7 linked regions of the Homo sapiens genome follow. The protein of the gene in region 6 purifies or fractionates together with the protein of the main gene of each other region. This does not show direct contact. Each region holds a gene or a part of one and is shown on either strand. Other genes may lie near its edges. The genes, in order: FLNB, AKR1A1, HAUS2, AACS, LYPLA1, ARFIP1 and SEC24A.

Region 1 (4,554 bases), on a different chromosome or scaffold from region 6:
CAGCTGCTGGGGTCTCCCACACTGGCCAGGAAGCATCTCACCCTCCTGCTGGCTCATGCCGCTGTGCCTGGGCCCTCTCCCATTTCCTTTTGGCTGTTCGCACACCTTTTTGGGAGCTTGGGTTTCAGGCTGTGCTCTGCAAGTGCTGGACGCTGCTGAGAGAAGGAGTTGCTCTTGCAGGGAAGCTCCTAGCCAGGAGGGGAGAGGTACAGAACCGCCTGCTTCAAACCCTGTGTAAATATTGCTCTTGTCACAGGGAAGGCGCCTTGTTTTTCCAGCCCTCCTGCTCCCAAGCCTTTCCCTAAATATCCATTCTGAGATTACACAGCTGCAGTGTGCATGGAATGAAAAGGTATCTGTGCTTGGCCGCCAGAGCGCCCAGTATCCTGACCTTCTGAACAAAGCAAACCTCCCTCTGTTTTTAATGGGTGAGTTTGCTGTATCTCTTGGCTCAAGCTTTAAATGGTCCATTCTGTAGATTTTGGAGTAGGGGAATGTGGAGAATTTGGGGCGGGACCCTGCTGGAGGCGGCTTGAGAGGCTGGGAGATAGACCAGGGAGCTCCAGATTCTTTGGAGCCGCTGAGCAATTTTCCTAATGAAATGGTCCAGGAACCCCAGTGTGCTCGGGGTATACCAGAAGGGCCTCCTTCCTTAACTGCCTTGAAGAACAAGCAGTGCTGCGTTTAACATGCATTAAACTCACAGGAACTGAGCTGGACATATTTGAGGGGGTGGGGGAAGACCGCCACGCCCAGAGATGTTTTGTGGTGTCAGATACAGGTTATAGCTAGAGGCAGTGGTGAGAGACTTCTGCTTGTGGATTTTTTTCCTTCCATCTTCTCTCAGGTAAGTGCTTTAGCTCCAAGTTGGACAGACTTTATGTTTAAATCCCAGTTCTGCTGGTCCCCAGCTGTGTGACTCCAGATGAATTATCTGACTTCACTGTGCCTCTGCTTCCTTTCCTGTAAAACAGGATTAATAACAGGACCCACCTAATAGGCTTGTTTGGAGCTGTAGAGGAGGTAACAGCCAAGTAGTAGCTCTTGTCCCATAACCCCTGCTTTCTCTTTTCCCACCTCGTCTTCCCTGCCCTTTTGGGCCCTCACAGTCAAGATGAACTGATTTTTGGTTGGTCAAAATATTGCATTAGGGCCAAATGGGTGCGGTGGCTCATGCCTGTAATCAAAGCACTTTGGAAGGCCAAGGCAGAAAGATTGTTTGAGGCCAAGAGTTTGAGACCAGCCTGGGTGACATAGTAAAACTCCATCTCTACCAAAAAAAAAAATTTTTAAAGACGAACTTAGGAATGAAACAGCTTGTTAAAAAATGGTGGAACTTTCCCCTGCAGCCACATCATTTCAACTTCACTTTAAAAATATCTTTTTGGCCTGGCACAGTGGCTCACACCTGTAATCCCAGCACTTTGGGAGGTGGAGGTGGGAGGATCACTTGAGCCTAGGAGTTTGAGACCAGCCCAGGCAACACAGCAAAACCCCATCTCTACAAAAAAATTTAAAAATTAGCCAGGCGTGGTGGTGCATGCCTGAAGTCCCAGCTACTTTGGAGGCTGAGGCAGGAGGATGGCTTGAGCCTGGAAGATTGACGCTGTGGTGAGCTGTGATCATGCCACCGTACTCCAGCCTGGGCAACAGAGGAAGACTTTATCTAAAAAAAAAAATATTAGTAATAAGGCCGGGTGCGTTGGCTCATGCCTGTAATCCTAGCACTTTGGGAGACCAAGGTGGGCAGATCACTTGAGGTCAGGAGCTCAAGACCAGCCTGGCCAACATGGTGAGACCCCATCTCTACTAAAGAAATACAAAAATTAGCTGGGCATGGTGGCGAGTGCCTGTAATCCCAGCTAATCAGGAAGCTGAAGCAGGAGAATCGCTTGAACCTGGGAGGCGGAGGTTGCAATAAGCCAAGATCATGGTACTGCACTCCAGCCTGGGCAACAGAGCGAGACTCTATCTCAATCAATCAATCAATAAAATATCTTTCCTTATCATCACCTTACAGCTGCTTCCTGGATGGACACACTGTCTCCTTGTTGCTCACCTCCCGCTTCTTCCCTACGTAGCCCCAGGCCTCAGAGCTGCTGCTTGAGGGGCTTCTTGGCTGCACAGATTAGATACCATGATGAGGTTGAGATAGTGTTGGGGGTGGACCTTGGGGCAGGAGCCTCAAGAGCTTCCAGGAACAGCTGGGTTGTGTTTGAGAGTTGCACGATAGCAGCTCTTTTGTTTTTATTGATATCCAGAACAATAATTCTTTCTCTGGACTAGGAGCTATAATTAAACCAAAATATTTCCCAGCTGGGGCAGTGTCTAGGGCTCTGGCAGAAGCATAGCCCTGCATGGGGATGCTATGCCAGGCATGCCCCATAGAGGGCACTGTAGCAGGCATGCGCCAGACCTGATGACTGAAGGAGGCTCTCCCTGGGCCAGCTAAGTTGTCTCAGGGCTGCAGTTAGGGGATCTGAGGCAGCTCCACTGCCCATCCAGGGGTCAAGAGATGAGCCTGGCACCAGAGCCATGCAGACATGGTTCAAACCCGGCTCTACCACTTTCTGGTTGTGTAGCGTGACTGGCCCCCTCCCTGAGCCGCAGAGTCATTTGTGAAGCAGGAATCACGGAAAGGATTCCATACCACATGCGTAAATGGTGCTGTGCACAGGACCTGGAGCCGGAGTGGGGTACGCATGCCCCGTCAGCGGGAGCTGCTGTTCTGTTCCTGTGCTTGTTGCTGGAATTCACGGCAAAGTGGGTGGGCTGGCAGGTCACAGTGGCTGCACCCGGTCTGCAGCACAGTGCCTGGGGTGAGGGCTGAGGAGGAAGGGAGGAGATGCTTGGCCTCCCTGGCTTCTCCAAGTCTACCCGGAGAAGAAAGGACAGTCAGAGGGGCCCACGCCTCCCCCACACCCCTGGAGGGAGAGCTGGACTCTGGTGGCTGAAGCAGCACTTCAGGCTCACAGTGTGACTCAGGCTTCTTGCCCTCAGCCACAATGGCTCATGCCCAGAGGAGAGAACAGGGTGTCCAGGCTGTTGGTGCTTGTGGGCGAAATGTCAGCCATGCTCCTCCTGCCTTGGCCTAGAAAAGGGAGCCCCCACCCCGCAGGGCCTGAGGTTCTCTCTGCCAGAAGTTCAGAGCTAGTGCCAGTGGGTTCCCATGCCACCAGGGTGAGCCCTCTGTAAGGGGATCTATGTGTGTCCCTCACCACGGCCTCAGTGCTCCCAGGAAAGCCCTCCAAGTCATCAACACAGCATTTTCTATTCCTTTCTCCCAGGTATCCAGTCGGAATTCTTTATTAACACCACCCGAGCAGGTCCAGGGACATTATCCGTCACCATCGAAGGCCCATCCAAGGTTAAAATGGATTGCCAGGAAACACCTGAAGGGTACAAAGTCATGTACACCCCCATGGCTCCTGGTAACTACCTGATCAGCGTCAAATACGGTGGGCCCAACCACATCGTGGGCAGTCCCTTCAAGGCCAAGGTGACAGGTAACGAACAACCACCTTCGGAGTTACTCTCCCTTCCTGGGGAGCTGGTTGTGTCAGATCAATCATAGTGGAAACTATGGATGGTTTTAGATGTGTTAAAGCTACTTTGAACTTTGAATGTCAGTAAATAGTATGAGATGTCAGAGGGCAGTGTTTGAAACTTACAAAAGTCCACAGAGTGGAGCCGTGCAGAAGTTGAGAAAGCATGTTAGGATGTTAGGTGGTTTTCTATCTCTAACAGGAAAGAATACATATTGAAATCTTACGTATTTGTTTAGATCAGGGTCTGAAAAATCCCCTGATTTCTAATTTTCACTTGAAAAATAATCAAAAAGTTTTCCTATACTTATAAAAATGTGTCTCCTCCAAAACACTGGAAAAAATACCAAACTATGAAAACCACTTCACAGCCACCACCCAAGGTAACCACCATAAACACTGTAGTAAATCCCTTCCACACGTCATGATTCACTGTTACATAAAGAATGTAGGTTCATCGCAGGAAAATTAGAAAATTCAGATAGAAAAATCATCCTTTCTCATCCACAGAATCATTTTTTGATATTTCATTATATGTCATCCCAAACTTTTACACTGCTTATACATAGACTATTTTATGTCAATAGAAAGATGTGAATTCCACAGGCACATCTTTGGTGGGTAGGGGGTGGGGGGATTGGGAGGGTCCTTGGCCTTGTCAGCCAAGGCCAGACTCATCCATTTGCCCAGAAAGCCAGATCCTAGTTGTATGGGGGTGGGATCCTAGGGGTTTAGAAGACATTATGGGTGTGAGATACAGGTGTGGTGGCTTTTGTGTTGGGGTGCGCGGGCTCTCCTGGGGTTACTGTGTAGGGTACTCGCCTGTCCTCTGGCTGAGAGACCCCTCTTGATCTGGCCATTCATGCCTGTCCCCCTCCCTCCTGTATCTTAGGCCAGCGTCTAGTTAGCCCTGGCTCAGCCAACGAGACCTCATCCATCCTGGTGGAGTCAGTGACCAGGTCGTCTACAGAGACCTGCTATAGCGCCATTCCCAAGGCATCCTCGGACG
Region 2 (4,554 bases), on a different chromosome or scaffold from region 6:
GGTAGAAATGGGGTTTCACTCTGTTGGCCAGGCTGGTCTCTAACTTTTGACCTCAAGTGATTTGCCTGCCTTGGCCTTCCTATGTGCTTGTATTACAGGTGTGAGGCACAGCGCCCGGTCTAACTTCACTTCTTTGAGCCTATTTTCTCAACTAAAAAATTAAAGATCTGGATATGGTGGCTCATACCTGTAATCCCAGCAACTCAGGGTGCTGAAGTGGCTGGATAGCTTGAGGTCAGAAGTTCAAGACCAGCCTGGGCAACCTAGCCAGAACCATCTCTAAAAAAGTTTAAAAACATCCAGGTGTGCTGGCACAGGCCTGTAGTCCCAGCTACTTGGAAGGGTGAGGCAGGAATATCACTTGAGCTTAGGAGTTCAAGGCTGCAGTGAGCCATGATCACACCACTGTTCTCCAACCTAGGAGACAGAACCAGACCCTGAGTCTAAAAAAGAGTTCCTTTTTTAGGACTCCCTTTACCTCCCTTGCAGGAGCCCACTCGGGCCTACCAGCATGGCTGACCAGACCTCTGTGAAAGGTACTTGGAGAATCTCTGCAGTTCTTTTTTTTTTTTTTTTTTTTGAGACAAAGTCTCGCTCTGTTGCCCAGGCTGGAGTGCAGTGGTGCAATCTAAGCTCACTGCAACCTCCGCCTCCTGGGTTCAAGTGATTCTCCTGCCTCAGCCTCCCAGGTAGCTGGGACTACAGGCACCCGCCACCACGCCTGGCTAATTTTTTGTATTTTTAGTAGAGATGGTCTTTCACTGAGTTAGCCAGGATGGTCTCGATCTCCTGACCTCGTGATCCACCCGCCTCGGCCTCCCAAAGTGCTGGGATTACAGGCGTGAGCCACCGTGCCTGGCCGAGAATCTCTGTAGTTCTGACAACCTCCTGGGAACATTTATTTCATTCTCAGAGAAGTGGCCCCTTCCTGGGCCTATTCAGTTACCTGGTCTCTCTCTCATAATGGCCTTTGCCTGCCTTACACTGGCTTGAGACCTTATTTAGTCAAGACTGGGTGCTTCTGTGTGGCCACCCTGCTTTTGTTTTTAGATAGTGCAGTTCTTTAACAGAGATCTTTAGCCTGCCACAGAGAAGGGCAGCCAGGCTGGTGGTCTGGTTAGTGTTTGTCCAGGAGCTACTGGCCATGGTTGGTTTTGGGCACCCTGTCTCTGCTGCCTTTGCTCACAGGCACATATATAACCACGTGTTTGTCCTACACATCTGTCCCCTCTTCCCGGCCCATGCTTTGTAGTAGTGAGACAGAGTCTTACTCTGTCACCCAGGCTGGAGTGCAGTGGCGCAATCTCAGCTAACTGCAACCTCCACCTCCCAGGTTCAAGTGATTCTTGTGCCTCAGCCCCCCGAGCAGCTGGGACTACAGGTGCGCGCCACCATGCCTAGATAATTTTTGTATTTTTAGTAGAGATGGGGTTTTACCATGTTGACCCAACTGGTCTTGAACTCTTGACCTCAGGTGATCTGCCCGCCTCAGCCTCCCAAAGTGCTGGGATTACAGGTGTGAGCCACTGCACTTGGCGCTTTGCAGTATTCTTGACAGTGGAAATCTGAGACCTGAACAACAGCACTAACCCCAACACCATTCTCTTCCCATCTGTGTTTCAGGGGGCAATGGCGGCTTCCTGTGTTCTACTGCACACTGGGCAGAAGATGCCTCTGATTGGTCTGGGTACCTGGAAGAGTGAGCCTGGTCAGGTGAGGGATGGGGGAAGAAAAAAGAAACTTGTTGAGCCTCTGCCTGCATTTTCCTAGCAGCCCCACCCCCATACTCCCCTTCCAGCGGGGATGAGCCAGTGGGAAGAGATAAGAGAAGACACCAATTATACATCCTGGGCTTCCCCAGCTGACTCAGAGAGTGGGCTGAGGGGCCCAGCAGGGCTGGGGGCATAGGAAGGACATCTTTCTCTAACTGGATCTGCACTGAGTGCTGTGGCAAACATGGGGCCCCTCTGTGCCCATCCCTATGCTATGACCCCTAATATGGCAGTTATCACCCTGTGCTGTGATCATGTCTCCTCTCCCACACTGGGTTCTTTGAGGGCTCAGCCTCTCCCTACTGCTCAGTCCAGAATTAGGCACATAGCAGGTGTCAAGGTTTGAAGAATAACTAGGTGAATTGTATATTGTATAGACCAAAGGTCAGCAAATTTTTTTTTTTTTTTTTTTTTTTTTACTCGAGACAGGGTCTCGCTCTGTTGCCCAGGCTGGAGTGCAGTGGCACAATCTTGGCTCACGGCAGCCTTGACCTCCTGGGCTCAAGTGACCCTCCCACCTCAGCCTCCTGAGTAGCTGGGACCACAGGCACACACTAACACACGGGCCCAGCAAACTTTTTTTTTTTTTTGAAACCGAGTCTCACTCTGTTCCCCAGGCTGGAGTGCAGTGGCGTGATCTTGGCTCACTGCAACCTCTGCCTCATGGGTTCAAGTGATTCTCCTGCCTCAGCCTCCCGAGTAGCTGGGGCTACAGGCATGAGCCACCACACTTGGCTAATTTTTGTATTTTTAGTAGAGACAGGGTTTTACCATGTTGGCAAGGCTGGTCTTGAACTCCTGACCTCAGGAGATCCACCTGCCTTGGCCTCCCAAAGTGCTGGGATTACAGATGTGAGCCACCTTGCCCGGCCACAAACTATTTTTTAAAGAACAAGATAGGGCCAAGTGTGGTGGCTCATACCTGTAATCCCAGCACTTTGGGACGCCAAGGCAGGAAGATTGCTTGAGCCCAGGAATTTGAGACCAGACTGGGCAACACAGTGAGACCCCCGTCTCTACAAAAAATTAAAAAAATTCGAATGCGCCTGTGGTCCCAGCTACTTGAGAGACTGAGTTAGGGGGATTGCTGGAGCCCTGGAAGTCGAGGCTGCAGTGACCTATGATCATGCCACTGCACTCCAGCCTGGACAGAGCGAGACCATCTTAAAAAAAAAAAAGGTAGGCTGGACACTGTGGCTCACGCCTATAATCCCAGCACTTTGGGAGGCCAAGGCAGGTGGATCACAAGGTCAGGAGTTCGAGACCAGCTTGGCCAACGTGGTGAAACCCCGTCTCTACTAAAAATACAAAAATTAGCCAGGCGTGGTGGCACACACCTGTAATCCCAGCTACTTGGGAGGCTGAGGCATTAGAATTGCTTGAACCTGGGAGGCAGAGGTTGCAGTGAGCCAAAATTACGCCACTGCACTCCAGCCTAGGCAACAGAGCAAGACTCCGTCTAGGGGGAAAAATTAAGGAAAAAAAGTTAAAAAACAATTAGATTCTATTGGACAAGTTACAGATGGAGGTGATTATACACTCATGTGACCTTTTAATATGTAACCACTTAAGCTGGGTGTGGTGGCTCATGCCTGTAATCCCAGCACTTTGGGAGGCTGAGGCAGGCGGATCACCTGAGGTTGGGAGTTCGAGACCAGCCTGACCAACACGGAGAAACCTCATCTCTACTAAAAATGCAAAATTAGCCAGGCGTGGTGGTGCATGCCTGTAATCCCAGCTACTCAGGAGTCTGAGGCAGGAGAATCACTTGAATCCGGGAGGCGGAGGTTGCAGTGAGCCGAGATCGTGCCATTGCACTCCAGCCTGGGCAACAAGAGCAAAACTGCGTCCCAAGAAAAATAATAATAAAATAAATAAGTAACCACTTAAAAATATAAATGTAGTTCTTAACTCAAGAACTGTTAAAGTTGATAATTGACTGACCCCTGGTGTAGACCATCCCAGCTGAGGGGAGTCTGGGAATATGGACCTGCTCTCTCAGGGTGGACGTAGCTATGAGATTTGGCTCCTGCCTGGAATGGGGCATTTCCCCAGGGCTTCTTCCTTCTTCCTTGGAAATCTTGAGTCAGAGTGAAGAGAAGTTTGGGGATTAAGTTTCAGAGAAGCCCCAGCAGAGAGAACAGATTCTTCTATCTGGGATTTAGACTGATGTTTGTGGTGTGCTTGGATGACCTGTGTCTCTTTTCCCTTTTGCTTTCTTTCCTATAGCTGCCAAGGAGCCTGGAGCCAGGGTCCCTGTGCTTTAGGCAGGCACTTCTCACAGCCTCGGAGAAGTCCAGGAGCTAGGTCAAGGCAGAGGGTTGGGGGCCACAGACAAGGCCAAGGCGGGGCATGGAACAGCAGGGGTCAGATGTTAGGGGAAGTACGTCGGCACCCGGGTGGGGATCTTGAATACTATGTCAGGCACCCACAACAAGAGCTTTGGGTGCTTTGTGTCTAGGGCCGGGTACCCTTGTTTCTGCTGCTGATGCCGTGTTTCCAGTCTGGATTTTAGCAAAATTAACTGACCCATCCTTCTATCTGATGCCTGTTTTCTTCTCTCTCATTAGGGAGTTCTGGGTCCAGCTTTTAGCCCACTTATCTGCCTCCAGCTTTCAGCCTACTTATCTGCCTTCCTTAATCTTTTCCCCCTTCTAACCTCTTTTGCTGGCCTGTGCTCCCAGAGTTCCCAGAGTCTGTCTACACAACTCCCTGTATGTCCTTGGCCTAGGAATTTTTTCCTGTGTTTCTCTAACCAGCTCCTTAGAACCTGGAACTTGTT
Region 3 (3,383 bases), on a different chromosome or scaffold from region 6:
GTGGTGTGCACCTGTAATCCCAGCTACTTGGGAGGCCGAGGCAGGAGAATTGCTCAAACCCAGGAGGCGGAGGTTGCAGTGAGCTGAGATGACACTACTGCACTCCAGCCTGGTGACAGTGAGACCCTGTCTCAAAAAAAAAAAAAAAATTGCATATGCACTTCAAGCTTATATTGTTCAAGGGTCTAATGCATAATTTTTTTAGTAAACTCAATTAGTGGATTCCCCAAATTGTGAGATAAATCTTTTATGTAAATTCATGTGTTTTACAGATATGTGAAGAAATCCCACAATACACTAATTACAGTCTTATTAAAATCTCAACTCTATTATAGATTTTGCATGTCAAGAAATCTTTTAGGTTCTGCTATTCCTCAGACTGTTCCTGACTTCATTGAGGGTTTCAGAGGATAAATCAGGGGTCAGACTGGTAGAGTCACATAGAGAAAGAAAGAAAATAAGAAAAATGCTAGGAAAACCAGGCAGCATCTCAATTCCTCCAGAATGGTCTTCACAAACTGGCATCACTGTTATGCTGGCAATAAATTTGCAAATCTCACACACCTCTTCTAGTGTAAGTAGGAAACACAGACATTCAGGCTAGGTGCAAGGGGCTAACACCTGTAATCCCAGCACTTTGGGAGGCCAAGATTGCTTGAACCCAGGAGTTCAAGACCAGCCTGGGCAACACGACGAGACCTCATCTCAACAAAAAAATTTAAAAGTTAGCTGGGTGTGGTGGGGCACAGTTGTAGTCCCAGCTACTTGGGAGGCTGAGGTGGAAGGATCCATTGAGCCCAGGAGGTTCAGAGTGCAGTGGGCTATGATTGTGCCACTGCACTCCAGCCTGGGTGAGAGCAAGACCATCTAAAAAACAAGAACAACAACAACAACAAAAAAAGGCATGCAGAGCTAATTTTTTTTTAATATCCACACATCTAAAAGTTGAATAATTAAAGAAAAATTAATCAGCACTGATTGACTCTGGAAGAGTATTAAATTAGCTTTCTCTTTGAAGTAGACCTCAGGCTTAACTTACCTCAAGCTCTTTTGATTCTGAGAGCCTATATGCCTATACTGTATAAGTTAAACAGTGCATCAGTCCTTTCTATCACTTTAAATTCAGACTAGGACTAAAAAATTTTAGTTAGAAATTACAAGTTTATTTTTATATTTTGAAAAAGGCATAATAGAAAACAAAAATAAACAACCAGGCATATCAATATTTGTGACATACACATACACACAAAAATGAATATAGGAAATAACACGAAGAAAAAGCATAGTATGTTTTGAAACCAACGTGGGGTATGAACAGATTTTTGATGAAATACAACTAAAGGTTTTAAGTGTCTATGTAATGTTCGAGATATTACGATCACTCTTATCCTACTAGCAAAAATTAGCAAACTAGGCTTTAAAACATGATTCCTGTTGTTTTAGCAGGATTTATTTTGGTAATGATCCTGCTTCCTTATAAACAACTACTTATCATTGTTGAAGTCTTCTTGTGTTAAGGAGTACAATGAGGCCAGGCGCAGTGGCTAACACCTGTACTCCCAGCACTTTCGGAGGCTGAGGCGGGAGGGTCGTTTGAACCCAGGAGTTCAAGACCAGCCTCAACAACATGGCAAAACTCTGTCTCTACAGAAAATACAAAAATTAGCCAGGCGTGGTGGCGCGTGCCTATAGTCCCAGCTACTTGGGAGGCTGAGGTGGGAGGATCACTTGAGCCTGAGAGGTCAAGGCTGCAGTGAGGTCAAGATTGGGCCACACCACACTCTCAGCAACCTGGGTGACAGAGTGAGATCCTGTCTTTAAAAAAAAAAAAAAAAAAAGGAAAGAAAAGAACAAAACAAAAAACAAAACTGATGTACATGTTTTAAAGCAAAATAGAACCCCAAGTCTAAAAGTAAAATAAGCCAAGGTTAGTTACAATACTGATTAAAAAGAGTATATCCTGAGGCAGTTGTTAGTATATCACTCTCTATTATATGCACAATAACCTCTGATAGGTAAAATATCTGAGCATTTTGCAAGGTAAACCTCCAAAGTTATACCACAGTGTGCCTTTTTCTTTGCTGTTTCTTCTTTGCCTATTCCTACAGCTACCAGTAAACACTTAGGAACTGCTTTGTATGCCAGGGTCTCCAAGACTACCTCCAGGTTCCATGATTTGCTAGGAGAATTCACAAGACTCAGCATATCATCACACAGCTATGATTTATTACAGCAAAAGCATATGAAGCAAAACAGCAAAGAGAAAAGGTACAGAGGCAAAGTCTGGGGGAAACCAGGTATAAGCTTCCAGAGTCCTCTAACAGTGGAGTCACACATATCTGTTGTTTCATTCCACCAGCAACTGAATTGTGACAACATGTGAGAAATGTTGTTTACCAGGGAAACTTGTTAGAGATACAGTGCCCAGGGTTTTTACTGGGGGCTGGTCACGTAGGTACCTTCTACCTACCATGTACCAAAATTCTAGACTCCCAGGAAGAAAGCAGGTTTTCAGCACAAACCACAGGTTAGCTACCATGAACGACTCTTTTCAGTGAGTGGAGCCCTCCTGTTAAGGTTTAAATATGTCCCCCAAAGTTCAAGTGTTGGAAATTTAATTGACATTGTAAAAGTGTTATGAGACCTTTAAAAAGTAATTAGGTAAGGAGGGCTTTGCCCTCATTAATGAATTAGTGCTGCTATCTTGGGAGTGGGCTCATGATAAAAGGCTAAGTTTAGACCCATATATCTTTCTCATGCTCACTTGCCATGTGGTGCCTTCTGCCATGGCAAGACCCTCACTAGATGCTGGCACCATGTTCTTGGACTGCCTAGCCTCCACACCTGTCAACCAAATAAACTTCTGTTCATTATAAAATACTTAGTTTGTGTAATTCTGTTATGACAGCAGAACAGACTAAGATACCTTCTGATATCTAAGTTCCCAGATGCAACAGCTGAGGACAAACCTTATAATCAGGCCTTTCAAAGGATAAGTCAGGCTGGCTGTGTTACTCTTTTCTGCATACTTAGTGACATTCCCACAGGAATAATCATCATAGACATTTTCAGATTCAAGAAGACCCTTCTAATTCAGAAACACCTTTTTTTTTTTTTTTTAAGACAGAGTCTTGCTCTGTTGCCCAGGCTAGAGTGCGGTGGCACGATCTGGGCTCACTGCAACCTCTGCCTCCTGGGTTCAAGTGATTCTCCTGCCTCAGCCTCCTGAGTAGCTGGGATTACAGGCACATGCTACCATGCCTGGCTAATTTTTGTATTTTTTATTTTTTTGGAGATGGAGTCTTGCTCCATCACCCAGGTTGGAGTGCAGAGGCACGATCTTGGCTTACTGCAACCTCTGCCTCCTGGGTTCAAGCGATTAT
Region 4 (4,554 bases), on a different chromosome or scaffold from region 6:
GCCTGGGCGACAGAGTAAGACTCTGTCTCAAATAAATAAAAGTTGGGAGACCATATATGAAAAGCAAGCTTTCCAACCTCTGAGATCCCCAAGGCCTGTCATGCTGGGTCTGCATTCCCAACGTGGCAGCATTGTCCGGAGCTGAGTGAGGCCCCTCCCTTTAGTTTGGAGGAGGGCATTTAGCACTGTTTTTGTCCTTTTCTCCTCTTACCACTCTTGAAGGTGATTTCCACCTGACTCTCCCCTTTCATATTCCTGGCCCTGGAGGCTTTGGGCTTTGCTTGAAGATCCAGCTCAAATGCTATCTTCTTTTTGATTATTCTCTTTGAATATTTCTGCCTTCCCTCTTCTCTCCAAGCACATGTAATTTGGGCTTTCATTCTGCCCTGCCTTTTTGTGTATTTGTGAGCATTCTTTTTTTTTTTTTTGAGATGGAGTCTCGCTCTGTCACCCAGGCTGGAGTGTGGTGGCGCGATCTCGGCTTACTGCAACCTCCGCCTCCCGGGTTCAAGCAGTTCTCCTGCCTCAGCCTCCTGATTAGCTGGGATTACAGGCATGCAACACCAAGCCCGGCTAATTTTTTTGTATTTTTAGTAGACACGGGGGTTTCACCATATTGGCCAGGCTGGTCTCGAACTCCTGACCTTGTGATCCACCCACCTCGACCTCCCAAAGTGCTGGGATTACAGGCGTGAGCCACCGCGCCCGGCTGTGAGCATTCTTATTGCTTAAAGACAGTGCCCGCGAACTCGTATCCTCTCCTCTGTGTCCCAGCAGAGGCTCACTTGTAGCCTGTATACAGTATGGGGCCATGCTTTGGACTGGATGTCAGTAGAGAGCAAGGCACACATCCTCAGCAGCCTTGCTCCCGCCCTGCAGGCTTCAGGGAGGAAGGCAGGGGCATTCCCCACTCCGGCCGCCTCTCCGTGAGCCCGTCTTCCCAGACCAAGGTTGGCAGGACGTTTCTATCCCTGCATTTTGGGAGGCTCTGGTAGGGTTACCCACCCTCTTTTCCACTGCCATAACCACAGGTTGGTTGGTTCTTGTCACTGCTTCCAGCTGAAGCCACCTGTGCACTCCCTGCACATCCACGTGGGGCTCTGGGGTCCTCTGATGCAGACTTCCTTGGGGTCGGCTGCAGCTCCAGCCTGGCATATGTGCCTGTGATTCCAGGCCTCTAGCAAGCTCTGGCAGACATGCTGCATGTACTAGCCCTCTGTAATTAGGAGGCAGGGAGGTGGCACCAGTTTCAAAGGCATGCTCTTTTGGAGGACTGTGCCAAGTGTCCTTCTGTGTACCACAAGCTGCACGTCGGCTCTCTGTGCAAGCAGCTGGGATGGAGTTTGCCAACAAATAGAAGGCTTGGGCCCTGTTCTCAAATAGCTCCGGGTGGCTAGGGGAGAGAGCTCATGTGAAGATAGTGCCACACGTTAGTGGACGCTGGGCATTCCACGAATGGGGCATTGGTGTTGACATTCTGAGTACTGCACTGTTGTATGACAGATGCAGCTGACGGCTGTAACTTCAGAAGAATGTGTGTTCAGAGTTCCAAGCTAAGGAATCCAGGAGTGGCCAACCCGGATTTATTCCTTGTCTATGAGGAACATCTGAACCCCCGGCCCATCCCATGGAATGCAAGCTCTACAGGGGGATTGAGGCCCTTTCTTTTGGATTAAGTAAAGGTTACCAGGTGGAAGTTGCTAGGGGAGGGTGCTGAGTGAAGGTGCTGTATAAACTGCGTGCATTTTACAAGCGGTTGCGGTTCTCCTGTCCAGCCTGCTGCCCCCAGACCATCCCTGTAGGTAAGTTTCCAATAAACCCTGTGTCTGGCTCACTGCTTCCAGATCTCTGGAATCTGGTGCCATCTATTGGAGTTAACAGGGGTCCAGCACAACAGCAGTGCGCTGGGTTTAGCAGAGAATGCGGTTTAGAAGGGCGGATAGCCTGTAATCTCAGCTACTTGGGCAGCAGGGGCAAGAGGATTGCTTGAGTCCAGGAGTTAGAGGCTGCAGTGAGCTATGATCATGCCACTGCACTCCAGCCTGGGCAGAAGAGTAAGATCCTGTCTCTAAGAAAATGAATAATAAAAAAGAGGCAGATAAAATCTTCAGCTAAGATTTGAAGGTGTGGGCTGGCCAAGATTCTCGTAGGTGGAGAGGAAGAAGGGCTGAAAATTCAGAAGCCTGTAGGGACCAGACAGGTGCCCAAGATAATAATAGTTACTATTCAGTGAGCTCTCTCTGTATGTCGGGCTCCATCTGGCACCTGATATGTATCAACTAATGTAATCCTCTCAGTAATCCTACCAAGTAGGTGGTAGTAGTAGCCCCATTTCACAGCTGAACAAACCAAGGCACGAAGTCTCAGTTAAGACTTTGTAGCTGTAGGCAGTGGAGCTGTAGTCTGCCGTCTGGTTAGTTGTTGCCTCTGGCATTTGCCTGAGGGCCCGATGAGGCAGCTGTTCCCAGTTCTAGCTAATCCTCACTGTGTGGTGTGGACAATGCATTTGTTACCTATTGCTGGTGACAAATCAGCCCAAAAGTTAGCGACTTAAAACAAGAATAAACCTTTATCACCTCTGAGTTTCTGTGGGTCAGGACTGGGGAGTGGCTAGTTGGGTGGTTCTGGCTCAGGGTCCCTGAGGGGCTGCAGTGGGAACGCACCCGTCCCCAAGAGCTCACTCACATGGCGGTAAGTTAGTGCTGGTGGTGGCAGCAAGGTAGTGCAGGAGACATCTGCCATATGCCACCTAGGACTGCGTGAGCATCCTCACTGGCTTCTCCTGGAGCAGGTGACCCAAGAGAGCCATGTGGCTGCAGTGACCGTTACAACCTGGCCTTGGAACTCACGTTTGGCCACTTCCACAATACCCTGTTGGTGACACAGATCAGCCCTCTCAGGTTGGAAAGGGGACCATAGAGGGCCATGAATGCCTGGAGGTGACAATTACTGGCTGATGACCACAGTCAGGTACTCACTTTTCTCAGGAGAAGCCGGAGTTTCATTTAAAAATGGATTTATGTGCTTGCTTTGGCAGCACATATACTAGGTAGAAAAATTTGCATGATCCCTGCACAAGGTGGAGATGCAAATTCACGAAGTAGCCCATAAAAAAGCAACAACAGGCTTTTAAGTGTGAGCAGCTTGCACAGGCTGAATCAGACCTGGGCTTGCGGTTGCAGCGTCCTCCCTGGTAGAGGCGGGGAGCGTGGGAGCAGAAGAGTGTGTCTGAAGAGTCGCATTTGATGAGAGGGCTGAGTTGCTGACAGTGGGAAAGTTTCCACCTGAAGTCGGCCGCTTTTGCTGTCGTCTCCCAGGGTCCTTGTGGTGTCAAGAGGCCATTGTGGCTGCATCCTTCCAGATTCATGGGGCTGGCCGCGTCTGCCTTCCTTAGTGATGCTGTTGGCGAATGCACTTTTGTGATACTTTTTTTTGGTTGTTGTTGTTGACAGAGTTTCGCTCTTGTTGCCCAGGCTGGAGTGCAGTGGCACGATCTCGGCTCACTGCAACCTCTACCTCCTGTGTTCAAGAGATTCTCCTGCCTCAGCCTGCCAGGTAGCTGGGATTATAGGCATGCACCACCACACCTAGCTAATTTTTTGTATTTAGTAGAGATGGGATTTCACCATGTTGGTCAGGCTGGTCTCAAACTCCTGACCTCAAGCAATCCACCCATCTCGGCCTCCCAAAGGGTTGGGATTACAGGCGTGAGCCACCGCTCCTGGCGCTTTTTTTTTTTTTTTAAATGGGGTCTCACTCTGTCGCCCACCCAGGCTGGAGTGCAGTGGTGGGATCATAGCTCACTGCAGACTTGAGCTTCTGGGCTAAAGCGATCCTCTCAGCTGTCCCTGCCCCAGTTCTTGTGATCCCTCCTTGTCCAACATAACTGAGGACCATTCCTGGACACCACAGTCAGAGGGGACACTGCTGAAGGGCAGGGAGCATCGTGTCTCTTCTTGTCTTCCCCACCGGGGCTGGGAACAGTGAGGATGGGCAAGCTTGACTTCACTGATGGCAGTGAGATAATTCAGCTCAGCGGTTGTATTATACCTTTTCCCCCATTCCTGATACCCCATTGGCCATCTTCCTGTTATGTTATTATATCCTTGCCAGTCTCTGCCTTCCTGGAGCCCTAGCAAGGCTGTGCTTTGAAACAGAAGCACTGTATGGCTTCCCTTGGTCCCCGATAGGATAAAATTCTCCTGTCCCTAAGGACTGATTGGCTCACTGTGGCCAATCCACTTGGATCCTAGGCAGTTGAGAGGGTAAAGAGTCCTCAGCGAGGCTGGGGTTAGTTTTTCAGTGAAGTCACATTTCCTTTAGGAGTTAAATACATCTCTTTGTGTCAAGTTTCCAGCTCATGTCTTGATGGTGGGGAAAAGTTATTTTGAGTATAACTGAGTGGAATCTGCAAGGGGGAACTCCCCTGGGCATAAAAGTTAGACTGTTGTGGAATAAAAGGAGGGAGACCTTTTACCATGTAACTTTTGTTTTTTTTTTTTTTTTTTTTTTTTTTGAGATGGAGTTTCGCTCTGTTGCCCAGGCTAGAGTGCA
Region 5 (4,554 bases), on a different chromosome or scaffold from region 6:
ATAATGAGTATAATGATAAGAAACAGTGAAAATGTGGTCAAGTGCGGTGGCTCACGCCTGTAACCCCAGCACTTTGAGAGGCCGAGGCAGGCAGATCACCTGAGGTCAGGAGTTTGAGACCAGCCTGGCCAACATGGTGAAACCCCGTCTCTACTAAAAATACAAAAAAATTAGCCAGGCGTGGTGGCGGGCACCTGTAATCCCAGTTACTCAGGAGGCTGAGGCAGGAGAATCGCTTGAACCCAGTAGGTGGAGGTTGCAGTGAGCTGAGGTTGTGCCATTGCACTCCAGCCTGGGTGACAGAGGGAGACTGTGTCTCAAAAAAAAAAAAAAAAAAAAAGGAAGAAAAAAGTTGTTAATGTTAGTGCGGTAATAATAACACGTGCCACTGATTGAGCACATAACTGTTTACAAGCTAGGTGTTTCTTACAGGGCACCTCATTTGACACCGCTGTGAAGTATTAGCTCTGCTTTACAAAACCTCGAAAGCCTGGTCTCTGGTTAGGAGTCCATCTCCTTTATGATTATGGTAATTCTAGTTGTTCGGAGGGAGAAACAGAATACTAACTTACTGGGACGTGTCTATTTTTAACAAATGCACAGGAGGCCGGGCACGGTGGCTCACACCTGTAATCCCAGCACTTTGGGAGGCTGAGGCAGGCGGATCGCCTGAGGTCGAGAGTTCGAGATCAGGCTGACCAACATGGAGAAACCCCGTCTCTATTATAAATACAAAATTAGCCGGGCATGGTAGCGCCTGCCCGTAATCCCAGCTACTTGGGAGGCTGAGCCAGGAGAATTGTTTGAACCTGGGAGGCAGAGGCTACAGTGAGCTGAGATCCCACTGTTGCACTCCAGCCTGGGCAACAAGAGTGAAACTCCGTCTCAGGAAAAAAAGAAAGAAAGAAATGCACAGGTGCACAGGAATGTGCTTTTCTTTTACATATGTGTACTGAAATATTGACAAGTATAATAATGTGAGGACTGGGATTGCCTTCAGGAAAATCTGGTTGGTGACTCTTGAGTGTGGGTGGGTGTAGGTGGGTGTGGGCAGCAATGGCAAGGCAGGCTGGCTGTGAATTGTTTTGCTTTTTGGTAATTTTTTATTTACATAGTTACTTAGAGACTGTCGCCCAGGTTAGAGTACAGTTGGTGATCATATCTCACTGCAGCCTCAAATTCCTGGTCTCCAGCAACTCTCCCGCCTCAGCTTCTGAGTAGCTGGGACTACAGGCATGTGCCACCATGCCTGGCTAATTTTTAAACTGTTTTGTAGAGATGAATTCTCATTATGTTGTCCAGGCTGGTGGGAAACTCTTGCCCTCAGGTGATCCTCCCCAAAAGTACTGGGATTACAGGCATGAGCCACTGAGCGCAGCCCTTTTGTTTTAAAAGAACTCTTTAAGGTCTTTAAAACAGGGAAAATGGCCGGGCGCGGTGGCTCACGCCTGTAATCCCAGCACTTTGGGAGGCCGAGGCGGGTGGATCATGAGGTCAGGAGATCGAGACCATCCTGGCTAACAAGGTGAAACCCCGTCTCTACTAAAAATACAAAAAATTAGCCGGGCGCGGTGGCGGGCGCCTGTAGTCCCAGCTACTCGGGAGGCTGAGGCAGGAGAATGGCGTGAACCCGGGAAGCGGAGCTTGCAGTGAGCCGAGATTGCGCCACTGCAGTCCGCAGTCCGGCCTGGGCAACAGAGCGAGACTCCGTCTCAAAAAAAAAAAAAAAACAGGGAAAATACATTCAAAAGATGTGAGATATTTGGGAATGTCAAACCAACAACACTGACTTATGGGATCATTAAAAAGTAGATTAGAGTTAGAATCCTAGAGTTGGGATTTTGTCTGAAAATAATAGATGACAAAAGTATGAGGGTAAGTGTTAGATGCTATGGAAAACAGGGAGGGCCTGGGCCCTGTGAAGAAGATACGTGGGCCTCATGAGGTCCAGAATGAAAGATTCTGTCCTAACAATAGAGTTGGCCTATGAAATACTTGTTACTTCTTTCCTCTCTGAAAATTCCTCTCAGAGAAAATTAGAATCAGACTCAGCCAGGAAAGAAAAAACAAAAGAGAATGTGCTACTGAACAAAGAAGACAGTGCTCAGGTTACATAGTTGGGGGTACATAGTGCCCTTACCCTTAGGTGAAAGGTGATTGAGGCCAAGGGATGTTGCTCATACCTGTAATCCTAGCACTTTGAGAGGCTGAGGCAGGAGGATCACTTGAGCCCAGGGGTTCAAAACCAGCCTGGGCAAGAGTCGCTACAAAAAAAAAAACAAAATTAGCTGGGCGTGGTGGCGCATGTCTGTGGCCCCCTCAGCTGCTTGAGAGTCTGAGGTGGGAGGATTGCTTGAGCCTGAGAGGTCAGCAACAGAGTGAGACCCTGTTTTGAGAGAGAGAGAGAGAGAGACAGAGACAGAGACACAGAGAGAGAGTGTGAGCGAGCAAAAGAGATTTATTCTGGTTTTTTTTTGTTTGTTTTTGAGATGGAGTCTTGCTCTCTTGCTCAGGCTGGAGTGCAGTGGCGCAATCTCAGCTCACTGCAACCTCCACCTCCTGGGTTCAAGTTATTCTCCTGTCTCAGCCTCCCAAGTAGCTAGGACTACAGGCCTGTGCCACCATGCCCGGCTACGTTTTGTATTTTTAGTACAGACGGTGTTTCACCATGTTGGCCAGGCTGGTCTCAAACTCCTGGCCTCAAGTTGATCTGCTGGCCTCAGCCTTCCAAAGTGCTGGGATTACAGGCGTGAGCCACTGTGCCTGGCCAATTCTGTGATTTTTTTTAAAAAACAATAGAATGAATGGTTTTAAACACTTTTTAAACCATTAACTTAACTACGTACAACACTTAACTACGTACAATTTTAAACACTTAACTACGTACAATTTTAAAATGACAACTTTTAGGTACAAATGCCTATGGTTCATTGAAGAGAGAAACATGGAATATATATGAGCAGAATTAACTATTAATTTTTTAAAAATCCATCTCTTGATGAGAGAAAGAACTGTTGTTAACAAAATATTTAATGGGAAATTATTGAAGTTTTAATTAAAATTTTATTTTTTTATTTTCAATTTTTGTGAGTACATAGGTGTACATATTTATATGTACGTGAGATGTTTTGATACAGGGATGCAATGTGAAATAAGCACATCATGGAGAATGGGGTGTCCATCCCCTCAAGCGTTTATCCTTTGAGTTACAAAGAATCCATTTACACTCTTGTAAGTTATTTTAAAATGTACACTAAGTTACTATTGACTATAGTCACCCTATTGTACTGTCAAATGGTAGGTCTTATTCTATTTTTTTTGTACCCATTAACTAGCTACACCTCACCTCCAGCCCCCTTCTACCCTTCCAGCCTCTGATAACCATACTTCTACTACTGTCTGTGTCTGTTAGTTCAGTTAGTTTTAGATCCCACAAAAAAGTGAGAACATGCAATGTTTGTCTTTCTGTGTCTGGCTTATTTCCCTTAACATAATGATCTCCAGTTCCACTTGTGTTGTTGCAAATGACTGGATCTCATTCTTTTTTTATGGCTGAATAGTACTTCATTGTGCATATGTACCACATTTTCTTCATCCAGTCATCTGTTGATGGACACATAGGTTACTTCCAAATCTTGGCTATTGGGAACAGTGCTACAACAAACATGGGAGTACAGATATCTCTTCAATATACTGATTTCCTTTCTTTTGGGTATATATCCCAAAAGATATATACCCAAATATAGTTAAAAGAAAGATACTTTCTTTTGAGTATATATCCAGTGGGATTGCTGGTTCATATGGTAGCTCAATTTTTAGTTATTTGAGGAACCTCCAAACTGTTCCCCATAGTAGTTGTACTAATTTACATTCCCACCAACAGTGTATGAGGGTTCTCTTTTCTCCACATCCTTGCCAGCATTTGCTATTAACTGTCTTTTGAATAAAAACCATTTTAACTGGGGTGAGACGATATTTCATTGTAGTTTTGATTTGCATTTTGCTGGCGATCAGTGATGTTGGGCACCTTTTCATATGCCTGTTTGCCATTTTTATGTCATCTTTTCGGAAATGTCTATTCAGATCTTTGGCCCGTTTTTTTTGTTCTTGTTTGTTTTGAGACAGAGTCTTGCTCTTTCGCCAGGCTGGGGTGCAGTGGTGCAATCTTGGCTCACTGCAACCTCCGTCTCCCGAGTTCAAGTGATTCTCCTGCCTCAGCCTCCCAAGTAGCTGCGACTACAGGTGCGCACCACCATGCCCAGCTAATTTTTTAATCTGTAGTAGATACGGGGTTTCACCACGTTGGGCAGGATGGTCTTGATCACTTGACCTCGTAACCCACCCTCCTCGGTCTCCCAAAGTGCTGGGATTGCAGGCATGAGCCACTGTGCCCGGCCTGGCCCATTTTTTGATCAGATTATTAGATTTTTTTCCTATAGAGTTGTTAAAGCTCCTTATATATTCTGGTTATTAATCCCTTCTCAGATGGGTAGTTTCCAAATATTTTCTCCCATTCTGTGGGTTGTCTCCTCACTTTGTTGATTGTATCCTTTG
Region 6 (4,554 bases):
GATGGTCAAAGTCTAAGTCTAACATTTTTCTTGGATATTTGGGGATTATAGTTAGCTGCTTTTCTAGGATAAAGATGTCAGCTTCATTAAGGGCATGAGTGTTTTCTGTCTGCTTTGAGCTGTAGATCTGTATGTCTTGCTGTCTTGTTGACATCCTTTCTTGAATATCTTAAAGGTATCTCAAATCCAGTATGTCTAAAATGAAACTGATTTCCCCTTCCCTCCCTACAAAACTGCACAACGTTGGTTCTTTCTTTGTTCCTTTTTTCAGTGAATGACACAATTATCTTTTCATTGTAAAATCCAGAAAACTAGAAGTGATCCTTAATTCCCTCTCCCTGATAGATCCAATGATTGAACAAGTTTTTAAAGTCTTACTTTCTACATGACTCTTGAATTTTTCTATTTCTTCCTGTTTCCACTACTGCCACTTCATCTTGCCTGAAACTTTTACAATAGCCTCCATTCTTATCTGTCCTCTCTAATTCATTACCCATCTTGAAGGCACAGTGATTTATTTTGAAACACACATTGGATTATCACTCTCCTTCTTCCTCCCCCAGTGCTTTTATGGCTTTCCATTGCTTCTAGGATCAAAATAAAACTGCTTAACAGCCTTTAGCTCTCCAGACTCATCTTGTACCATGTTCTGCATAACTCTCCAGTTCAACCATGCTGGCCTTCTTTAGTCCTTTGTATGCACCTTGCTCCCTGCCATTTTTGCAAGGCTTTTGTACATGCTTTTCTCTCTGTCTGGACCATTCTTTCTTTACTTTCATTTCATTTCACTTGTTAGTTCCTAGTCATCCTTCACACCTCAGCTGAAGTTTTGCATCCTTAGAGAATATGCTCACTTCCCACATTAAGGTAATAGCATCATACATTTCCCGCAGTTTGCAATTTACATTTATTCATGTGACTGTAAGATTTTCTTTCTGTTCAGTGGCCTATAAACTTCATGAAGGTAAGGTCCATATCTTGTTTTCTTTTTTGGCTCATTTTTGAATCCCTAGAACCTAGCTCAGTACCTGACACCTAAATTTGACTCATTAAATTTCCAAGTTAATGGTATTAAGGATTTCAGTTCATCGAGTTTTGTAATACAAGAATTTGAATATGAATTTTTATAAAAATAGTGTTAAAATGGTAGTACAGTTTGAACATTCCTAATCCAAAAACTTGAAATCCAAAATGCTGCAAAATTCAAAACTTTTTTGAGCCCAACATGATGCTACAAGTACATAATTCTACACCCAACTTTATGTGATGAATCAAAGTCAGAATGCAGGTGTACAACAGTTTCTCCAAGAGAAAAAAGACCTGCCTAGCCCCCTTCAGCTGCCATATATCTTTTCCTCACACAGCCAGATGCACCTACGCAAGCATGCCCGCAAAGGGCAATACAATGCCATGTGTATGTGTAAGAAATGATTGGTTATACGTAGCATATAAATTCAGAGACGGGAATGATAGTGATGTCAAACAACCACAGACTGTCCACATGAGTGGCTGAGATAGTGACACCTTTGCTTTTGGATGGTACAGTGTATACAAACTTTGTTTCATGCAAAAAATTATTAAAAGTATTATATAAAATTACCTTCAAGCTATGTGTATAAGGTGTATATGAAATGTAAATGAATTTTGTGTTTACACTTGGGTCCCTTCCTGAAGATACCTCATTATGCATATGGAAATATTCCAAATGCCAAAAAAATCTGAAATCCAAAACATTTCTAGTCTCAAACATTTTGGAAAAGGGATAATCAACCTGTAATTAAATTTTCAGTTTGACTATTTCTTTCAAGTGTATGGAAATAAATTATTAGGCCGGGCACAGTGGCTCACGCCTGTAATCCCAGCACTTTGGGTGGCCGAGGTGGGTGGATCACTTGAGGTTGGGAGTTCAAGACCAGCCTGGCCAACATGGTGAAACCCTGTCTCTACTAAAAAATATACATATACAGATTAGCTGGGCGTGGTGACCTGCACCTGTAATTCCAGCTACTTGGGAGGTTGAGGTGGAAGATCGTTTGAACCTGGGAGGCAGAGGTTGCAGTGAGCCGAGATCGTGCCTCTGCACTCCAGCCTGGGCGACAGCAAGACTCCGTCTCAAAACAAAAAATGTGTTATTAGTAGCTATATAAAATATAGCAATATAGCACAGTATTCTTACACTATTTTGTAATAGACCCTTTTATTTTTGGATGGTTTTAGTTTTACAGAATTACTGTGAAGATAGAATAGAGCTTCCCATACCCACTTTCCCCTATTATAAGATAGGCTGTGCACAGTGGCTCATGCCAGTAATCCTAGCACTTTGGGAGGTCAAGGCAGGTGGATTGCTTCAGCTCAGGAGTTCAAGACCAGCCTGGGCAACATGGTGAAACCCCATCTCTACCAAAAATACAAAAAATTAGCTGGGCATGGTGGTGCCCATCTGTGATCTCAGCTACTTGGGAGGCTGAGGTGGGAGGATTACTTGAGCCCAGGAGGCGGAGGTTGCAGTGAGCAGAGATTATGCCACGGTACTCCATCCTGGATGACAGAGCGAGACTCCATCTCAAAAAAACAAAAACAAAAACATACTACATTAGCATAGTACATTTGTCACAATTAACCAATATTGGCACGTAATTATTAAAGTCCATATTTTATTCAGATTACCTCACTTTTCCCCAATGTCTTTTTTTTTTTTTTTTTTTTCTGTTCAAGGATCCCATCTAGGATAGCATATTACCTTTAGTGGTCATGTATCCTTTCATTTTGACAGTTTCTCAGATTTCCTTGTTTTTGATGACAAGTTGATAGTTTTGAAGATTACTGCCTGGTCAGGTATTTTGTAGACTGTCCCTCAGTTGGGACTTGTCTGCTGTTTTTCTCATTAGACTGGGTGATATGTTTCTAGGAGGAAGATCACAGAAGTAAAGTGCCATTCCCATCACATCATATCAAGAATACAGACTTTTTTTTTTTTTTTTTTTTTTTTTTTTGAGGTAGAGTCTCACTCTGTTGCCCAGGCTGGAGTGCAGTAACGCAATCTCGGCTCACTGCAACCTCCACCTCCTGGGTTCAAGCGATTTTCCTGTCTCAGCCTCCCAAGTAGCTGGGTCTACAGGTACATGCCACCATGCCCGGCTAATTTTTGTATTTTTAGTAGAGAGAGGTTTCACCATGTTGGCCAGGCTGGTCTTGAACTCCTGACCTCAGGTGATCCACACACCTCAGCCTCCCAAAGTGTTGGGATTACAGGCGTGAGCCACTGTACCTGGCCAAGAATACAAACTATTAATATGACAGTACCATTGATATTAACCTTGACTACTTGGCTTGAGATAATGTTCATCAGTTTTGTCCACTGTAAAGTTACTCTGTTTTCCCCCTCCTTTTGTATATTGTACTTTTTAGAAGAAAGTCTCTCTGTGAAGCACACAATTGGGAATTGGGGAATTATGCTTTACCTCTTTAAGGGTGAAGTGTCTACATAAATTTTTGAAAAATCTTCTATAAGAGTTTTTTGTCTATTCTCCCCTTTCAGTCGTTTATTTATATCAGTCTGACTCATGGATATTTATTTTATACTTAAGGGTAAATCCAGTAGTACTTTATTACTTTGTTGCTCAAATTGTTTCAGCTGTGGCCACTGGGAGCTCTTTTAGTTGGTTCCTGTATTCCTTTGACATACTCCTGTCATTGTGAGACTTTTGTTCTTGTTTTGTTTGTTTGTTTGTTTTTGAGCACTTTTAACTTTCTGGTATTACAAAATGCTCTAGGCTCACCTTGTGTATTACCTACCACAGGCCTAGAATCAGCCTTTTCTCCAAGGAGCACTGATTCCTTCTATTGGAGAATAGTATTAGAAACCAATATCTGGGCACTATGTTTGCTCATTGCTGTTGGAATGTCATTGCTTCTAGGCCCTCCCAGTGGACAGAGTAAGGAAATATATGTGTGTACACTAACTCATGTATATACACATATCTATAAATATTTCTATATGTAACTATATATATGTTAAGCTATATTTTCAGTTTATTTCCTGTGAGCATTTTTCATTAAAAAAATTACCTGTGAATATTGAAGGGGTTTATTTTACATGGTTTTGGGAATTTAGTAACAAAAAGTAACTCTCCAATTATCCATTGCTAAGGGACAAAAGCAGTTCAGATAATACCAAATAACAGGTAACCTGTTTGATCTTTGAATGAAATCAATTACAACAACAGAGATGACCACCTCTCTTGGTTCTTGGTTGGCTTCACTGCTAATGTTCTGGAACTGAGCCATCTATGAAGAATGAGGCCACAGCATACTGAATAATTTAGAGTTAATTTACAGCTAGTTTTCTTTTCAGAGAGTAATTTAGTTTTGAGAGTCTTATCATTTTACTTCTCATTGGTTTCTCTGTAACACAGTCTGAGTGGGGAAATTTAAAAAGACTTCTGCAGACAGTCAGTTTTGTTACCTAAGAGTTGGTTATGGTGGTAGAGATAGGCATAGTTGAAAATCTGTTAGGTTAACTTTTAAATTGTTTCTTATTATGCATATAATTCA
Region 7 (4,554 bases), on a different chromosome or scaffold from region 6:
TTCCAGTGTCAACTAGACTTACAAAACAAAAAATAAGTCATTTGATAGTTTAGACTGTTTTACACACAAGCCAAAAAGAGACTATATTTTAGTTATAGGATAACCATCCACTCTATTTCTGCATAGGACTTAGATTTAAATATTTAAATGGGATAAAATTTTGAGACTCTATTGAAATATTTCATCTGTAATCTGATCCAGTATTAAAATGTATACCTTTTAAATCTTTGTTGTTGTTTTCTTCAAAAATAATCATAGCAGCAACTGATACATACTTTTTACTTTGATATAGGTTATTTCGATGCACGCTGACTAGCATTCCTCAGACGCAGGCCTTATTGAATAAAGCCAAACTTCCTTTGGGGCTGCTGCTTCATCCTTTCAAAGACTTAGTGGTATGTTTCTTTTCTTTTCTTTTTTTTTTTTTGAGACGGAGTCTCCCTCTGTCGCCCAGGCTGGAGTGCAGTGACGCAGTCTCAGCTTATTGCAACCTCTGCCCTCCATGTTCAAGTGATTTTCCTGCCTCAGCCTCCCTAGTAGCTGGGATTACAGGTGCCTGCCACCGTGCCTGGCTAATTTTTGTATTTTTAGTAGAGAGGGGGTTTCACCATCTTGGCCAGGCTGGTCTTGAACTCCTGACCTCGTGATCCACCTGCCTTGGCCTCCCAAAGTGCTGGAATTACAGGCGTGAGCCTCTGCGCCCGGCTCTTTTTTTTTTTTTTTTTTTTTTTCTGAGACTGGGTCTCACTGTCGCCCAGGCTGGAGTGTAGTGGCGAGATCTCGGCTCACCGCAATCTCCGCCTCCCAGGTTCGGGCAATTCTCTTGCCTCAGCTTCCTAAGTAGCTGGCATTATAGGCATCTGCCACCACACCCAGCTAATTTTTTTATTTTTAGTAGAGATGGTGTTTCACCATGTTGGCCAGACTGGTCTCGAACTGACCTCAAGTGATCTGCCCACCTCCCAAAGTGCTGGGATTTATAGGCCTGAGCCACTACACCCGGCCTCTTTAGTGAAGGTAAATGTCTTTTGTGCAAAATTATCTTGGTGATGAAAATTTTCTGCAATGATGCAAGAATTACATATAGAATTTGTTTGATCTGTCTTTAGGAAGTCGATGATTGACAGATTACTTACAATTCAACCAAAAATTTTATTACTAAACACTTTCAAATACTAGGTAAAGTAAGTATATTGCTGGAAAATTCAAAAAGTACTGAATAGAATAGAGGTACTGAGAGAAACTAAATAAATGAATCATACTATTTTAATAGGTTGTGAATTATTTACCCATTAAAGTACTTTACCCTAGTCTCCCCGTTCTGCCATCCTTGCAGTAAAATTTGTTATTTTAAAAAGTTGTTTTAAGCCAGACATGGTGGCTCATGGCCTGTAATCCCAGCACTTTTGGAGGCCAAGGTGGGAGAATTGCTTGGGTCTATGAGTTCAAGACCAGCTTAGTCCTGGCTACTCGGGAGGCTAAGGTGGGAGGATCACTTGAGCCCAGGAGGTTGAGGCTGCAGTGAGACATGATTGTACTACTGCACTCCAGCCTGGGTGGCAGAGTGAGACCCTGTATCCAAAAAGAAAAGTTATTTCAGAAGAAAAAAGAAACTGATCTACCTTTGTCCTAAAGCTCTGTGGCCACATACTCTTGAGGATTGCTGACTTTCCCAAAACACACTACTTTTGGTGATAGGATTTTTTTGGTGGTGATATAATTTTATTGCCTGTATTGATTTTTTTTTTTTTTTTTAAGAAGCAGAGTCTTAACTGCATTGCCCAGGATTGGGTATGAGATCCTTATCTTAAAAAAAAAAAATAAAGGCCAGGTGCAGTGGCTCACACCTGTAATCCTAGCACTTTGGGAGGCTGAGGCGGGCAGATCACCTGAGGTCAGGAATTCAAGACCAGCCTGGCCAACGTGGTGAAACTCGTCTCTACCAGAAATAGAAAATTTAGCCAAGCATGGTGATGCACACCTATAATCCCAGCTACTGGGGAGGCTGAGGCAAGGGAATCGCTTGAACCCGGGAGGTGGAGGTTGCAGTGAGCCAAGATCCCACACTGTACTCCAGTCTGGGCAATAGAGTGAGACTGTCTCAAAAAAAAAAAAAAAGATAAATAAAACCTTTCTTTAAAGATGAGATGCTATGTCACTTTGTTGTCCAAGGCACTGGCTCTCAGTTAAGTTGATCAGTGTTCACCTGTCTCAGGGTTTCTGGTAAATCAAAACAAATCTCCCCAAATCTGATAGTCTTACAAAGACCCTTCCCACGTATTTACTGTTATTTATTTATTTATTTATTAGAGACCGGGTCTCTCGTTGTCACCCAGGTTAGAGTGCAGTTCCATGATCATAGCTCACTGCAGCCTTGAACTCTTGGGCTCAAGCAGTCCTCCTGCCTCAGCCTCCAGACAGAGTAAGTGGTACTGTAGGCATTGGCCACTATACCCAGCTAAGACTTTAGAACTTTTAATATGTAGGATAAACTTTAACTAGGAGTGTAATTCCAAAGTTTAACTGGTTATTTAAATTAACCTCACCTTACTTTATTATAGTTGAGAACTAAGTAAGCTTCTTAATGTAACATCAACAAACTTTGTAATAGTTTCATTGGTCATATATTTTAGAATGTTGATTTTTTTTTCTTTGCCATTTATGCCAAAAGTACATTGTAAATTTACCATCTTGGTTTTATTTTTTTAACTTATTATTTATTTATTTAAAAACTCTTTTTTTTTGGTAGAGATGGGCTGTTGCTGTGTTGCTCAGGTTGGTCTCTACCTCCCAGCCTCAAGTGATCCTCCTGCTTTGGCCTTCCAAAGCACTGGGATATATATATATATATTTTTTTAATTTATTTCCAAGATGGAGTCTTGCTCTGTTGCCCAGGCTGGAGTACAGTGGTGTAATCTTGGCTCACTGCAACCTCTGCCTCCCAGGGTTGAAGCAATTCTCCTGCCTCAGCCTCCTGAGTAGCTGGGATTATAGGCACCTGCCACTACGCCTAGCTAATTTTTGTATTTTTAGTATAGACGAGGTTTCACCACGTTGGCCAGGCTGGTCTTGAACTCCTGACCTCGCGTTCCACCCGCCTTGGCCTCCCAAAGTGCTGGGATTACAGGCATGAGCCACCACGCCCAGCCTATTTTTATTTTTAAAATAGAGACAGGGTCTTACTTTCTTGCCCAGGTTGGTCTCAAACTCCTGGCCTCAAGTAATCTTCCTGCCTTGGCCTCCCACCAGAGTGCTGGGATTTTAGACATAGGTGTTAGCCACTGTGCCTGGCCTGCTATTTTGGTTTTGCAATATGAGTGTTTAATGAGGAAAAAAATGGTTTTTACATTTTTATTTTATTTTATTTTTTGAGACTGGGTCTTGCTCTGTTGCCCATGTTGGAGTGCAGTGGCTCAGTCATGGCTCACTGCAGCCTTGACCTCCCAGGCTCAAGTGATGCTCCCACTTCAACCCAGCTCACCACACTGGGCTAATTTTTTAAATCTTTTGAGAGGGTCATGTTTCACTATGTTGCCCAGGCCGGTCTCAAACTCCTGGCCTCAAGCAATCCTTCCGCCTTGGCTCCCAAAGTGCTGGAGTTACACATGTGAGCCACTGTCCCCAGCCAATAATTTTTTTTTTTAAGACAACTTTTAATGAGAATGGTCTTGGAGCAAAATAGTAGGGTTTAAAATTAATACATTTCAACTACATGGTTTTTGTGTATGGCAGTTTAGATACATCTTGTACTCTAAGTTTTCTCTAAAATGATAATATCCCAACAGTTATTTAGACAGGATGGATTCATGCTTATGTTTTCAACATGATGATTTTTGCCTTTAAAAATTTAATTCTGTTTTTTTTTTTCCAGCAATTGCCTGTGGTTACCTCCAGTACAATTGTGAGATGCCGTTCATGCAGGACGTACATCAATCCTTTCGTCAGCTTTCTTGATCAAAGGAGATGGAAGTGTAACTTATGTTATCGAGTCAATGATGGTATGGGATGCTTTTTTGAAACATTTAAACGTTTCTACTTGCATTGTAGGGAAATCAGATGATACAAATGCACAGTTAAAAAAAAAAAACCCTTTTATTTACCTCTAGTCAATCCTTCCACTCAGAGAAAACTACAGGTAACTTTTTTCTGTGCGTTTATATTTATAAATAAATTTAATTATTTATTTTTTAAGCAAAAAATAATGATAGTATTACATGGATATCCCATTTTTACATTGTATTGGGTATATAATAAGTGGTATATTTCATGGTATTACTTAAGCCAGGAATTTAAGAAACATTTTTATTTAGAAATTGTCCCACGCCTTTTCTCTAGGGTGAAAGAAAATAAGTCCACAGAATAGCTGCCCAATTCATTCACTGCTGAATGAAGGGAAGTAGGCAGTGCTAGAAGGTTAGTTGAATGTAGTTTTCTCAGTAATTGAGGAGGAGGAGATTTCTCTCAATAACTATGTCACAGTTTTTATTTGAGGACTATAATGTAATCAACAGGGTTCTGTTAGTATTAGAGAAGGAAGTGGGTATGCCAGTATCC

What was found.
Region 1: the proteins of ARFIP1 (region 6) and FLNB fractionate together in Homo sapiens (co-fractionation; one large-scale study listed by BioGRID). This does not show direct contact.
Region 2: the proteins of ARFIP1 (region 6) and AKR1A1 fractionate together in Homo sapiens (co-fractionation; one large-scale study listed by BioGRID). This does not show direct contact.
Region 3: the proteins of ARFIP1 (region 6) and HAUS2 purify together in Homo sapiens (affinity purification with mass spectrometry; one large-scale study listed by BioGRID and IntAct). This does not show direct contact.
Region 4: the proteins of ARFIP1 (region 6) and AACS fractionate together in Homo sapiens (co-fractionation; one large-scale study listed by BioGRID). This does not show direct contact.
Region 5: the proteins of ARFIP1 (region 6) and LYPLA1 fractionate together in Homo sapiens (co-fractionation; one large-scale study listed by BioGRID). This does not show direct contact.
Region 7: the proteins of ARFIP1 (region 6) and SEC24A fractionate together in Homo sapiens (co-fractionation; one large-scale study listed by BioGRID). This does not show direct contact.

What each region holds. Positions count from the first base shown.
Region 1 is NC_000003.12:58,165,153-58,169,706, forward strand, and holds part of FLNB (filamin-B), read left to right. Parts: exon of another isoform or gene 1-963; intron 964-3,287; coding exon 3,288-3,506; intron 3,507-4,437; coding exon 4,438-4,554. UniProt on the Homo sapiens protein: Connects cell membrane constituents to the actin cytoskeleton. May promote orthogonal branching of actin filaments and links actin filaments to membrane glycoproteins. Anchors various transmembrane proteins to the actin cytoskeleton.
Region 2 is NC_000001.11:45,560,166-45,564,719, forward strand, and holds part of AKR1A1 (aldo-keto reductase family 1 member A1), read left to right. Parts: intron 1-1,623; 5' UTR 1,624-1,629; coding exon 1,630-1,713; intron 1,714-4,554. UniProt on the Homo sapiens protein: Catalyzes the NADPH-dependent reduction of a wide variety of carbonyl-containing compounds to their corresponding alcohols.
Region 3 is NC_000015.10:42,567,753-42,571,135, reverse strand, and holds the end of HAUS2 (HAUS augmin-like complex subunit 2), read right to left. Parts: 3' UTR 1,142-3,383; downstream 1-1,141.
Region 4 is NC_000012.12:125,068,430-125,072,983, forward strand, and holds part of AACS (acetoacetyl-CoA synthetase), read left to right. Parts: intron 1-4,554.
Region 5 is NC_000008.11:54,056,476-54,061,029, reverse strand, and holds part of LYPLA1 (acyl-protein thioesterase 1), read left to right. Parts: intron 1-4,554. UniProt on the Homo sapiens protein: Acts as an acyl-protein thioesterase. Hydrolyzes fatty acids from S-acylated cysteine residues in proteins such as trimeric G alpha proteins or HRAS.
Region 6 is NC_000004.12:152,786,116-152,790,669, forward strand, and holds part of ARFIP1 (arfaptin-1), read left to right. Parts: intron 1-4,554. UniProt on the Homo sapiens protein: Plays a role in controlling biogenesis of secretory granules at the trans-Golgi network. Mechanistically, binds ARF-GTP at the neck of a growing secretory granule precursor and forms a protective scaffold.
Region 7 is NC_000005.10:134,675,731-134,680,284, forward strand, and holds part of SEC24A (protein transport protein Sec24A), read left to right. Parts: intron 1-292; coding exon 293-395; intron 396-3,871; coding exon 3,872-3,998; intron 3,999-4,554. UniProt on the Homo sapiens protein: Component of the coat protein complex II (COPII) which promotes the formation of transport vesicles from the endoplasmic reticulum (ER).